Linked DNA regions of Homo sapiens: all the other regions are reported to be linked to region 1. Evidence: microRNA targets listed by miRTarBase, many of them from high-throughput screens and not tested one by one. Region 1 holds a microRNA gene; each other region holds the end of a gene's coding sequence.
The links. The annotated mature microRNA hsa-miR-331-3p reads GCCCCUGGGCCUAUCCUAGAA and lies in region 1 at 1,421-1,441, opposite strand. An mRNA with a match to its seed (bases 2 to 7 or 8) in the 3' UTR can be bound and repressed. Matches are read on the target gene's strand: a 7mer-m8 pairs with bases 2 to 8, a 7mer-A1 pairs with bases 2 to 7 and ends in A, and an 8mer does both.

Region 1 (3,678 bases):
CCCTAATATATAAAACACAATTAATCAAAAAGTAAAAATGAAAATACCTCTGAAAGAATATTCTCAAATGATATTTTTTAAAAATCACAGTTTAACACTCAACTAAGTGTCTGGATTGAATGTAGACTTCAAAAACTTACTACGTAAACAAGCTATAACTTTTTAACTCTTCACAAATTCCTATTTTCAGTGTTCATAATGAACAAGGTTTAAAAAAGTGGAAAGGCTCCCAAAATACTGAGAACATATATGTATATAAATCAAGGATGGGTTCACTCATTTCAAGCTATGTCAAGAAGTCTATGGGATGAAGCATGTCTGTTGTGATGGATATAGTACAGAACTAACTCCACGGCTGAGTTCTTCAGAGTGAGCCTCTGTAGGCTCATAGTCCTATTTTAAAGGAATAACCTATTGACCCAATTTGCTGGTGTTATAAGCTTGGAGGAATAGCACAATTTCAAGTTCCTTTCACAGGTGGAGTTTCTGATTAGTCTGTGGTTATTTGAAACATGGTCTACACCTACTGCAGAAGCCAGCATTATTAAAAGCATACATTTTCATTGTGCACCATAACTTTTGGATTTGGGGTCGTTTCATACTTTTTCAGAAATACTGTCTTCTAAATTAAACAGAAAAACATCTATGTGAATATAGCGATGCAACAGTTGTGATATGAGACCATGTGATGGATCAACTAGGTCAGAATATTTGTAAAATCCAGAGTGGCAAGGAATAAAAATAGAGAAACTTACTAAAAATCTTCTACAAAATAGTGATGTAAAATGTGACGTATTAACCAATTTCTACTGTGTCATTCTAGCTTGTTTTCATTAACCATAGCAGAACTTCTAAAAGTGAGCTCTAAAATGTGGCAAATTTGATAATAAATTAAGGAAAAAGTCATTAGTCTCCAAAAACAAGAATTGAAAATCATTTGGCACTGAAGCCAGATGGCAAAGACTAAATGCTCTTCAGAAATTATGAACAATTATTCAGTTACATGAGACTGACATAACAGTGTCAAGTAGAAAAACATTTAAGAAAACAGAAACCATTAAATTTGGGGGAGAGTTTAATTTGGAGGAAGAAGTTGATTTTGGGGTTTTTTAGGGCTAAGTTGCTTCAGCTAAAAATATAGAACTGATAATAAACAAGAATAGCTCTCTTCACTGGCAATAATATCTGTATGGAATTTCTATTGCGAGAAATTACTATAATGCCAAAGGCTGGGAAGACTTTGTTACCCAATGTCATCCCTCTAATTTTAGAAGGATTAACCAACCAATTTTTGCTAAAATGTAGGCACACATACCAAAAAATGTGAATCTTGGTGAATATAGGATGTCTGGTAGGCCTCAGGTTATCTTCAGTCTTCACACTCTTGATGTTCCAGGAATGATGCGCGAGCTTAGGTTGGTTCTAGGATAGGCCCAGGGGCCTGGTTTGATCTGGGATCCCTGGGACCATACCTAGAACAAACCCAAACAAAACCAAACTCCTTGGGAGTGCTTTCAGCTCAGGTAGACTTCTGGGCTTTTCACCCATATGGACCTCCACGACTGTACCAGGACCATATACCAACCTTTAAGGGATGGGAGTGACATTTCTGGAGCCTTCTGTACGTTGTCAGCTGATAGTACTGTGCCTGAGTAAGCATTATTTAAGTCATGGTATGAACAGAAGGTAACAGATTGGTGCAATAAAAGTGCAGAAAATACTTTGATTTAGAAATGAAGTTAATTTCCTTAAGAATTTACTTAAGGAAGGGGAAAAGGATATGCTTTGTTTAGGATATTATAAAAGAGTAAACTTATAAAAGACATGCTTTAGTTTTAGAAAAATTCTTCAATAATATTCATTTGTAGGTAGCTAAGCTTTAGGAAATGATATAAAACTGAAAAACATAAAGCCTAAAACAGTAAAATTATCCTTTAAGAAAATCTTAGGATATAAATAGGAGAGGAAATATATATATCCATAGCCATATCTCACAGAATATACTGATTTTAAAGGATAATGCAGTCAAGAGAATATGCAGCTTAAATACTGTACTATTGCAATAATATGTTGCTAAATGAAGTTCAATACATAGAGATAAAACTAATTTCATTGCTGACAAGCTAAAATACATTAAAATATATACCATAAAAAATACTATATGCACTTTAATTTATCACACATTTCATTTTCCTTCTTTTTTTTTTTTTTTTTTTTTTTGAGACAGAGTTTCACTCTTGTTGCCCAGGCTGGAGTGCATTGGCACAATCTCGGCTCACCAAAACCTCCGACTCCCAGGTTCAAGCGATTCTCCTGCCTCAGCCTCCTGAGTAGCTGGGATTACAGGCATGAACCACCATATCCGGCTAATTTTGTATTTTTAGTAGAGACGGGGTTTCTCCATGTTGGTCAGGCGGTTCTTGAACTCCCGACCTCAGGTGATCCGCCCACCTGGGCCTCCCAAACTGCTGGGATTACAGGTGTGAACCACCACGCCCAGCCCATTTTCATTTATTTATTTTTGAGACAAGGTCTCTCGTTCTGTTGCCCAGGCTGGAGTGCAGTGGTGCAATCATGGCTCACTGCAGCTGTGGCCTCCTGGGCTCAAGTGATCCTCCTGCCTCAGCCTACTGAGCAGCTGGGACTACAGGTGTGTGCCACCACATCCAGCTAATTTTTAAGTTTTTCTGTAGAGACCAAGTCTTGCTGTTTCTTGCCTAAGCTGGTCTTGAACTCCTGGCCTCAAGAGATCCTCCTGCCTCAGCCTCTCAAAGTGCTAGGATTGTAGGTGTGAGCCACTACGTCCTAGCTTATCACACATTTTAGAATATCTATAAAATCAGTTCCTCCTTATTCATGCTAAACTTTTACATGTGTGAATCCTTGAATCAATTAATCCTCTTTTTGGTTTACAGCAATTACACTGAATAGAATCACTTTCCTCTCACAACTACACTCAGAAGTTTTCTTCTTTTATCACTGACCTGGCTTTGGTATCTTGACTATCTCTTCTATAATGGCAGTCTCAACTCAAGAAACTGGTTTGGACCACCTATCTTTTTTTTTTTTTTTTGAGATGAAGTCTTACTCTGTCACCCAGGCTGGAGTGCAATGGCGCAATCTCGGCTCACTGTAACCTCCGCCTCCCGGGTTCAAGTGATTCTCCTGCCTCAGCCTACTGAGTAGCTAGAATTATAGGCAGGTACCACCACCACGCCCGGCTAATTTTTGTATTTTTAGTAGAGACGGGGTTTCACCATGTTGGTCAGGCTGGTCTCGAACTCCTGACCTCGTGATCCACCTGCCTCGGCCTCCCAAAGTGCTGGGATTACAGGCGTGAGCCACCGCGCCCAGCCTGGACCACTTATCTTTTATGATTATTATACCACAGATCCCTTCCATTAGCATGGATAACTGAATGCCGACTATGAGGCATGGTCATAAAATAAACAGACTGATTTGACAGTTACTTTGTAATGAAAACATGAGTCAATATATGGTTACTAAAATAATCAGCATGTTGCTAAAAATAAGTTGTTTGATGCTAGGATATCCATTTCTATACAGATTTGACTTTTACTTGTAAATATTATAGTGTGCAAATTTTATTTTTCATTCAAGAGAGAAAAGTGATCCTGCTTAATTATTAAATATTAAATTACAATTTAATCATGCCCA
Region 2 (3,000 bases), not on the chromosome of region 1:
GTCATTGCAGCTTTGGAATACTGTCGAGCCAGAAAATATCTGCCTCCATGTATTAAAACATTAAATAAAGTTGTTCACTTTTTTGTCTTTTGGTTAGCATTAAGTCAGTTTTAGACAGAGGGAGAATTTGAAATAGTAGAATGGTGGTTGGGTTCAGGATCGTATTTATTAGTCAGTTAACCTAGGATTGGTTTTATTTATTTTTTTTCAATTGGTCTAAAGAATGGTGATTTTGGTATTATAGTCTTACCCTACAAAATCCTTTTGCAGACCAAGTTTTACAGGAAAACTCCAGTGATTTTCAATCAAACATTGCATAGGTAAATATTTTCTCAAAAAATATAAATTCCCAATAGCAAATACTGATATGTTGTAATAATGCTTTCTATAGCAGTCAATGGCTCTGACTTAACTCCATGGAGGCTGCCATTTGGGCACAGTGAGTTGCCTTTAGTCCAGCTTGGTTGTCTCACTTCCTGCCCACCATGAATAGGAAAAGCAAGAGACTTCCCCTGTGCTCCCTTTTCTCAAATGCCATTCGAGGGACACATTGTGAATGTTTATGTTAAATTTTTTTTAAAAATGCCTTGTTTAGCTTTAAAAATACGAAGTAATTTTGCAATTTTTGAAAAACACTAGTTTTCCTTTAAACTTAATTTTTCATGTTGATCCTGAAGAATCCGTTAAAATGGTAGCACAAGAGTCTGGCAAGTTGGTACTGCAGAGAAAAGGGGTTAATTGAGGCTTGTTTGGAGTCGGGATTCCCCTTTCCCAAACATGCGTCTCGCCACTTGGACAGCAGCCATTTGTACTCGTATACTTTTTAAACTTTTTCTTGGAATACTATATTTTATTTGACTGGTAGTCTGATATTACTCCTAACTTGTCAAATTGATCTCTTTGCAGGTAACCAAGGAGCAGTGAACAGCAGCTACTACAGTAGTGGAAGCCGTGCATCTATGGGCGTGAACGGAATGGGAGGGTTGTCTAGCATGTCCAGTATGAGTGGTGGATGGGGAATGTAATTGATCGATCCTGATCACTGACTCTTGGTCAACCTTTTTTTTTTTTTTTTTTTTTTCTTTAAGAAAACTTCAGTTTAACAGTTTCTGCAATACAAGCTTGTGATTTATGCTTACTCTAAGTGGAAATCAGGATTGTTATGAAGACTTAAGGCCCAGTATTTTTGAATACAATACTCATCTAGGATGTAACAGTGAAGCTGAGTAAACTATAACTGTTAAACTTAAGTTCCAGCTTTTCTCAAGTTAGTTATAGGATGTACTTAAGCAGTAAGCGTATTTAGGTAAAAGCAGTTGAATTATGTTAAATGTTGCCCTTTGCCACGTTAAATTGAACACTGTTTTGGATGCATGTTGAAAGACATGCTTTTATTTTTTTGTAAAACAATATAGGAGCTGTGTCTACTATTAAAAGTGAAACATTTTGGCATGTTTGTTAATTCTAGTTTCATTTAATAACCTGTAAGGCACGTAAGTTTAAGCTTTTTTTTTTTTTAAGTTAATGGGAAAAATTTGAGACGCAATACCAATACTTAGGATTTTGGTCTTGGTGTTTGTATGAAATTCTGAGGCCTTGATTTAAATCTTTCATTGTATTGTGATTTCCTTTTAGGTATATTGCGCTAAGTGAAACTTGTCAAATAAATCCTCCTTTTAAAAACTGCACTCTGTCTTGTCTGTGCTTCAGTGTCATGTGGACTGAGTCTTGGTGCTCTGTGCCCACCTGGGGCCTAGGGCCACATCTCTGGCTTGGCAGTTGAGGCTGTTGCGTAGATGTCTTCAGTCTTCCCTCCAGTGCAACTGAAGGTAAACTCGTCTTTGGGGCCCTGGTGGAAGGGCTGTATGTCATTTGGCTGCACAGGACCTGATCTGAACTGCCTGTAACTCATTAAGCACTTGCACAAAACAAAGGGGGAGGCGCCAGTGCCCTCACTGCATGCCTGCATGTCTTTGAGGCCTTCATGCTTGGCTGGGAAGGTGCCGGAGGCAAGGGAGGTGTGATGAATATGTGGGTTTCTTCTAGCTCATAAGCTCATAGGTTTGTTTTTTTTTTTGAGGCAGAGTTATATTCTGTTGTCTCAGGCTGGATTGCAGTGGCGTGATCTCAGCTCACCTGCAACCTCCACCTTGTGGGCTTCTGCCTCAGCCTCCCAAGTAGTTGGGGTTACAGGCGCCCACCACCACTCCAGGCTAATTTTTTTTGTATGTTTAGTAGACACGGGGTTTCACGATGTTGGCCAGGCTGGTCTCCAACTCCTGACCTCATGAGATCTGCCCACCTCGGCCTCTGAAAGTGCTGGGATTATAGGCTGGAGCCATTGCCCAGCCTTCACAGATGGTTTTCAAATGGAAGTTTTGAACTTCTGTATTTTTGGGTCATTCCTAAAAATCAATTCCACTTGGAAGCAAAATTCCATGTAAGTCTCCTAAGGTAGAACGATAGGTAGAGATTGAGAGCTAACATGAGAAGTTTAAATGAACTCTTAAATATATCACGTTTTGGTAGTTCGAAGCTCCAACATGATGATAGCAAGTATTCAAGCTGCTTCCAAGTGGTGTACCTGAGCGAGTTAGAAACGCCACACTTGGAGACGAGTTCAGGAGTCCTTTATTAGCCGGCGACCGAGAGACGGCTACCGCATGAAAGTATCTCGGCCTCGAAGAAGGAGCTAGATTTTCTTTTATACTTTGGTTTGGAGAGGGGAGGGGGATTCTAGCTGCAGCCATCTTAGGGAAGAAAAACAGACAAAAAAGTTAAAGACAAATGGTTACAGGAAAACAGTTCCAGGTGCAGGAGCTTCAAATTCATCACAAAGTGACAGGTGAGGGGGCTCTGGGTGTTATCTACCGGACAAACATGGGGGCTTGATGGTACCATCTCTGAGTAAATTGCTGGGAACTGGACATCGCTTGCCTCAGCACCTTATCAGTTAACTGCACTCTTTGATACGTTGAGAGCTTGCACAAGTTAAAGTCC
Region 3 (3,000 bases), not on the chromosome of region 1:
TCAGATTCAGCGCCTTTCCCACAGACTTCTATGTCTATGTCAGGCTGCCCACCCTTGTTTTGGGGGTCCGGGGGTGGTTCAACCTGTCTTAACCTGTGTCTCTTTCTCCCTATACAGCAAAAAAAACGGAAAGCTCAGCCCCAGGACAGCCGTGGGGGCAGCAAGAAATATAAGGAGTTCAAGTTTTAGGTCCCCTCACACTAGCCCTTTTTTTGGCCCTACGTCTGGATGCCTGGGCTTCACACAAGAACCACCTCTCCCGCAGTTCCCAAGGACTTGTCATTTCATGTTCTTATTTTAGACCTGTTTTGTAAATAAAGCTGTTTCCCAAGGAAAGAGATGAATATTTAACACTCCTGAGCCTCCCTCATCTCCTTTTAGCCCCTTCTTGCAAAAGGACTAAAATAGTCTCTTTCTACAATCACTGGGCTGCCCCAGTAACCACGAACATAAACTGGGATTAGACGGCGCATTTGACTGGTGGTGACGCCAACCCCAGGCTGAAATCTGTGTTTCACCACTGCCCTGCTTTGTAGGAAGGCTTGGGGGAAGTACCTCTAGGTCTGGTTTGACCTTACTACTTTGTCCTTGGGGAGTAAAAATAGCCAGATTAGCGCCCTAGCGCGGCAGAGGAAGTAACAGTGGGCTTGGGAAGTAGGCCAGGGCAGGCCTTCCCAACTGACCTTGTGACCAGAAGTTCAAGTCCTTACCTGTGCGACAACATAGCTCAAAAGCTAAATTGTCTTGAGTCCATATGAACCCTTGGGTTCAAGCAACACTAGTCGCTGGGGTTTGGGATTTGTATGTGGGATGGGGGGACTTACTTTCTCCAGGTTGTAATCTGGTCCTGAGCAGCCTTTCTGACAGACTAGAGCAGGCTGGATCACTGGCTCCCATGGGCATTTGCCAGCCTGTGGGGAGGGTAGTCATGCGCTGCTGTTGTACTACTGTTGGTGTTTAAGTGCACCAGTGGAGGCGCTCACTTGCCGGAGGGTTCAAGATGGTCTCGGGGTTGTGGGGGGCATGATCCAGATAGGACGTGGCAGCTGAGCTAGGCCTTAGGAGGAATGGAATTTTAGAAATTTGGTAAGCAACAAAGCACTGGCACTCTAAAGAGGCATTTGGGGGGTAGGGAAAGAAGAGGAAGGTTGGCTCCAGATGGGCCCCGGGGTAGCTTGAGAATTCACTTATGCGAAGAACCTTCTGGACTCCAGGTCCCTGAGCCCCCGCTTGCCCTCGGGGCGGGAACTTCCCGGATCACAGGCACCCGCGGTGGCAGCGGGCCCCGGGTCTCCGCCGACCTCTCTGTTTGCCGGGGCCGCAGGGCAGGGCTAGGTCGGCAGGCGGAGAGCCGGCTTCCCCGGGCAGACCCCCACCGCTGGGGGCGGGTTCCGCATTGGCTCCGAAGACCCGAGGGGCCGAGGCGCGCTCCCGCGGCGGCCCCCTCCCTGCAGGGACCGAATCCCGGAAAAGCCGGGTTTCCGCTGGCGGGGCCGCGGCCGGCCGTGGGCGGGGAGGGGAGGAGCGGGGGCAGACTGGCAGCGGATTTGAGGGCAGGACCCGTGGGCGCGCGCTGGCCACAGACCACCCCTTCTACTCCGCGGGAGCGAGGGGCGCGCGTGGCTGCACGCAGGGCGCGAGCGCGCCCGGCCCGGCCCCTCCGCGCTGGGTGGGGCCGCGCGGGCCGGGCTCCCCGCCCCCTCCCGGACACGCCCACCCGTGTCGGCCTCGCGAGCCGCAACAGGCAGCGGCGGTCGAGCGCGAGGCCCGCGCGCCCAGAGGCCCCGCGCGTGCGTGCAGCTCGCTGGCTGCTCGCGCTCGGGCAGGCGGGCTGAGGAGGCTGCCGCGCCCCCGCCGCCGCCGCCGCGGGGGAAGCCTGGGAGCCAGATCGGCGTCGCCTCGGCCTCCGTAACCCCCGCCTAGCCGGGCCATGGCGGAACGCGGAGGGGCGGGCGGTGGTCCCGGAGGCGCCGGGGGCGGCAGCGGCCAGCGGGGATCCGGGGTCGCCCAGTCCCCTCAGCAGCCGCCGCCGCAGCAGCAGCAGCAGCAGCCGCCGCAGCAGCCGACGCCCCCCAAGCTGGCCCAGGCCACCTCGTCGTCCTCGTCCACCTCGGCGGCGGCTGCCTCCTCCTCGTCCTCGTCTACCTCCACCTCCATGGCCGTGGCGGTGGCCTCGGGCTCCGCGCCTCCCGGTGGCCCGGGGCCAGGCCGCACCCCCGCCCCGGTGCAGATGAACCTGTACGCCACCTGGGAGGTGGACCGGAGCTCGTCCAGCTGCGTGCCTAGGTGAGCGCGGGAGGGTGCGGCGGGGCGCCGGGGGAGCGGGGTGGCCGCCGGGGCCCAGCCCTCCCCGCCCCAGCGCCCATGGGGTCCCCGCCCTCCATCTCCCCGACTGTCCCGCGGCCCGGCCTGGCTCCAGCCAGGCCTCCCGGGACTCCTGCCACGGGGACCCGCCCTCTCCTGGCAGCCCCACCTTCTGCCTGGGGCCGGGACCACCCTTCTGTCCTCCCCGAGGGACCTTCTGGCCTCGGCCCCGGGCTTTCTCCGATTGGGCTGACCGAATCCGGCCTTCCTGGCAGTCAGTTTCCCTGAGTAAGTCACTCTCCTGCCTCGCCGGCGCCGGGAGCTGTACATACATGGATGTGGTATAGATCTCTTGATATTATTATTTCCCAATAGACTCAGCATGTGCCAAACTCGATTGTCACCTCTTGCAGGTAAAGCTCATATAATCACCCTAGGGGCTTCTCATTAGCCTTCGGCACACATGTTCATTTGAACTTCATATTACACACGTTCTGTCCCAAGCGCTAGGCTCTTAGTTTTGGGGCCCTATTTAATGTGTCCTCAAGTGTATTTTTACCTCCCCTCCCCCACTAAAACTGGTCCCAGAATCTCCCAGCTCTGCAGGGCTGTATGAAATTACTGCCTTGTTCCTAAATTCAATCCATTGCTCTCTGTCTGTTGGAACCATCTGGGGACTTTCCTTCCATTGGCAAA
Region 4 (3,000 bases), not on the chromosome of region 1:
AGTAGAGACGGGGTTTCACCATGTTAGCCAGGATAGTCTCGATCTCCTGACCTCATGATCTGCCCGCCTCGGCCTCCCAAAGTGCTGGGATTACAGGTGTGAGCCACCACACCCGGCTGCATATTGACGTTTTGATCAATCACAGACAGCACATATGACACTGGTTCCATAGGATTGGAACACATTTTTACAGTATCTTTTCTATGTTTAGCTATTTTTTTTGTTTTGCTTGAGACGGAGTCTCACTCTGTTGCCCAGGCTGGAGTGAAATGCTACAATCGCAGCTCACTACAACCTCTGCCTCCTGGGTTCAAGCAATTCTCCTGCCTCCTGCCTCAGCCTCCTGAGTAGCTAGGATTACAGACACCTGCCACCATGACTGGCTAATTTTTGTATTTTTAGTAGAGACGGGGTTTCACCATGTTGGCCAGGCTGGTCTTGAACTCCTTACCTCAGGTGATCTGCCTGCCTCAGCCTCCCAAAATATATATATATATATATATATATATATATATATATATATATTTTTAATCCCATCCTAAAGAAAAGCTAGTACACAAATGCTTACCACTGTGTTACAGTTACCTTCAGTATTCAGTACTACTCTACATGCTGTACAGGTTTGTAGCCTAGGGGCAACAGACTGTATCATATAAACTAGGTGTGTAGTCGGCTCTACCATTTGGTTTGTGAGTACACCCTATGATATCTGCACAACAATGCACTCACCTAATAGTGCATTTCTCAGAAGGCATCCCCATTGTTAAGTGATGCATACCGGACTTCATGCATTTAAAAAAATGCCAGAACACTCCTTACTTAGTGCATAGACTTTATCAAATGTTGAATAAAAACAGAAACAAAAAGGAGACAATCCTACAATGAAAAGGAGACACTCAGGTCCACCCTAGTGATTCCTTGTATGTGGAGGAGGTAAGTGGGACATGGACAGTTCTAAAATATAGTACGTATATACCCGACAACCACAGTGTTTTGCATTTCTTTATCAGTGAAAAACAAACTGATATCTGAAGTGTATAAACAGTTCCCTAGTAGTCTATTTGAGAAAAAGTATCAAATGTGCATCAATATGTTAAAACTGACAAATACAAGAAAAGCATTCAGCTAGAGAAAATTCACAGCATTTTATTCAAGTTAATCAATTTCATTCAATAATCTGCCATATTGTTCCCAGCACCACTATTACTGTTATTATTTCTCTTTGAGGAAGACCAGGTATTAAGAAATCTGGTTTGAATTTCCATGATGCCTAACTCTATGGTTAAAAATCCTTTTCCTTACCAAAAAGGAACTTCTTAATCACCAGAGAAACAGAGGGAAGACTGAGATATGTTTGCAGAAATTTATCTCTACCAGAGACAATTCATAGTTCATAATCTTTCAGGGTTGTGCTTTACTTGGGGGCTCCGTTTTCGGGAGCGGGTTGTTTCCCATAAATGTTTGCTTAATACAAATAATTTGCCCCACTGTACCACAGAAGGGAAATGAGGGCTAGTGTCCCCAGAAAGCAAGCAGGCAGTCCTCCAGGGAAGAAGCCCTAATGGCTCCTAGTGGTGACAGAGTCATTCTGCCTCCCCAGCCTGTGAGCAATAATAAAGTATAACTAAGTGAACAGGAGAGGTAATAACTAGCCAGATAACCCATGGGCTAGAATCTCTAAACAGAAATGCTTGTGTTTTGAATAAATCAGAGCTGGAAAGACACACTTTTGGAGAAGTGATTGAGAATAGAAAGGTATGAAAAAGATAAAGGTTTCTCACCAACGAAACCACAAAAAAGGTGGTACCAGTCAAAGGTAGACTTGGGCTTTTATTTTGGGGTGAGGGTACCCCAAATGGGTTGTGCCATTTTCACATAAAAATTGGAATGATAATGAACAAGTGAAAGTGAAATCAGTTTCCCTCCTTTGTTCAATAAACATGGTTAGAGCACCTGTGTGCAAGATAGTGGGACAGGTGCTGAGGGGAAAGGTAAAGCTGTTTAAGCTGTGGCCCTGAGCTGAAGGAGCAATCTAGCAGTGCCATCAGGCCCTGCACACTGCAGAGCACAGTGTCCCAGGGGCCAGGTGGAGGGAAGGATCACTTCCGGCTGCAGCATCAGGGAAGGCACTCTGCAGTCTCCCCTCCAGGTTCTCAGCGTGCCTCTATGCCTGTGTGACTGCTCAGCCTGCCCCATTCCAGGCACTTGCTCATCTTCCTTATCTTTCTCTGTAGCATGAGAAATGGAAGTTTGAGAGGATAGGATCCTACCTCACAGGTACCTAATAAATGTGTGTGGAATTGACATATAGTGGAAGTGTCACTTTATCTTAGTGCAGCAAGGTGGAAAGAGCTTTGGAAAGGAGAGGAAAGATGGTGGTTGTGAGGGTAAGGTGTTTTCATCAGAAGGCGGGAGCAAGGGTATACAAACCAAAAAGTCAGTTTAGTATGTGGCTTAGCTCAGAGCACACGAGGGTACCAACACAGCCAAAGACTGTAAGAAGGTAGCTGAAGTCCTCTGCCAAATAGGATTGAAAAGCTAAAATCTTTCTCTGTTTCTTTCTTAAGTAACAACTGGTCTATTCAAGCTCAACCAGAGCATATAAGAGAAAAAACTGACTAACGAGGGGGTCTTAAAGAGCTTTGAAGGACAGTTTCTAGAAAGTAGAAAGATCACTGAGTAAATTACTGCACCTCCTCTACCCCACAAAAAAAAGGGTGAGGATGAATGTAAAAGTGTAGAGCAAGCTTTCAGACAACTTCAAGTTTGTTTTTGGCGCTTCCGTTTGTAAGCAATCAAGATGGTGAGAGACGCTATCCCAAAGAAGAAAGTCTGTAGGAACCAGAGTAGCTGAGCCCGACCACTTGTGATGCCTTTATGCCTAAAACAGAAAAAACAAAATTTAAACACGAGATGTTAATCTTACAGTTTCATGGGAGTTATTGTCTTCTATATATATATTTTTTAAATTATACCTTCCACTACTTTCATTGGGTTTAT

Region 2: miRTarBase lists HNRNPH1 as a target of hsa-miR-331-3p. The part of its 3' UTR that is shown has no 7-base or 8-base seed match.
Region 3: miRTarBase lists SF3B2 as a target of hsa-miR-331-3p. The part of its 3' UTR that is shown has no 7-base or 8-base seed match.
Region 4: miRTarBase lists TMEM254 as a target of hsa-miR-331-3p. The part of its 3' UTR that is shown has no 7-base or 8-base seed match.

The regions. Positions count from the first base shown.
Region 1 is chr12:95,306,243-95,309,920 of GRCh38, reverse strand. It overlaps MIR331 (microRNA 331), which reads right to left and starts at 1,501; the gene lies at 1,408-1,501.
Region 2 is chr5:179,612,866-179,615,865 of GRCh38, reverse strand. HNRNPH1 (heterogeneous nuclear ribonucleoprotein H1) reads left to right here. Exons shown (of 14, transcript NM_001257293.2): 13 at 271-320; 14 at 907-1,688. The coding sequence ends at 320. All of the region lies in intron 4 of LOC128966623 (a long non-coding RNA gene), which reads right to left. Among named protein-coding and RNA genes, the nearest start is that of HNRNPH1, 9.3 kb to the left of the region's middle. RefSeq lists an enhancer at 1,979-2,038.
Region 3 is chr11:66,068,557-66,071,556 of GRCh38, forward strand. It overlaps SF3B2 (splicing factor 3b subunit 2), which reads left to right. Exons shown (of 22, transcript NM_006842.3): 22 at 118-752. The coding sequence ends at 189. It overlaps PACS1 (phosphofurin acidic cluster sorting protein 1), which reads left to right and starts at 1,716. Exons shown (of 24, transcript NM_018026.4): 1 at 1,716-2,286. The coding sequence starts at 1,931. RefSeq lists silencers at 1,276-1,895, 1,906-1,955, 2,106-2,235, 2,246-2,395, 2,456-2,660.
Region 4 is chr10:80,090,678-80,093,677 of GRCh38, reverse strand. TMEM254 (transmembrane protein 254) reads right to left here. Exons shown (of 4, transcript NM_025125.4): 4 at 1,127-2,881. The coding sequence ends at 2,761. Among named protein-coding and RNA genes, the nearest start is that of TMEM254-AS1, 13 kb to the right of the region's middle.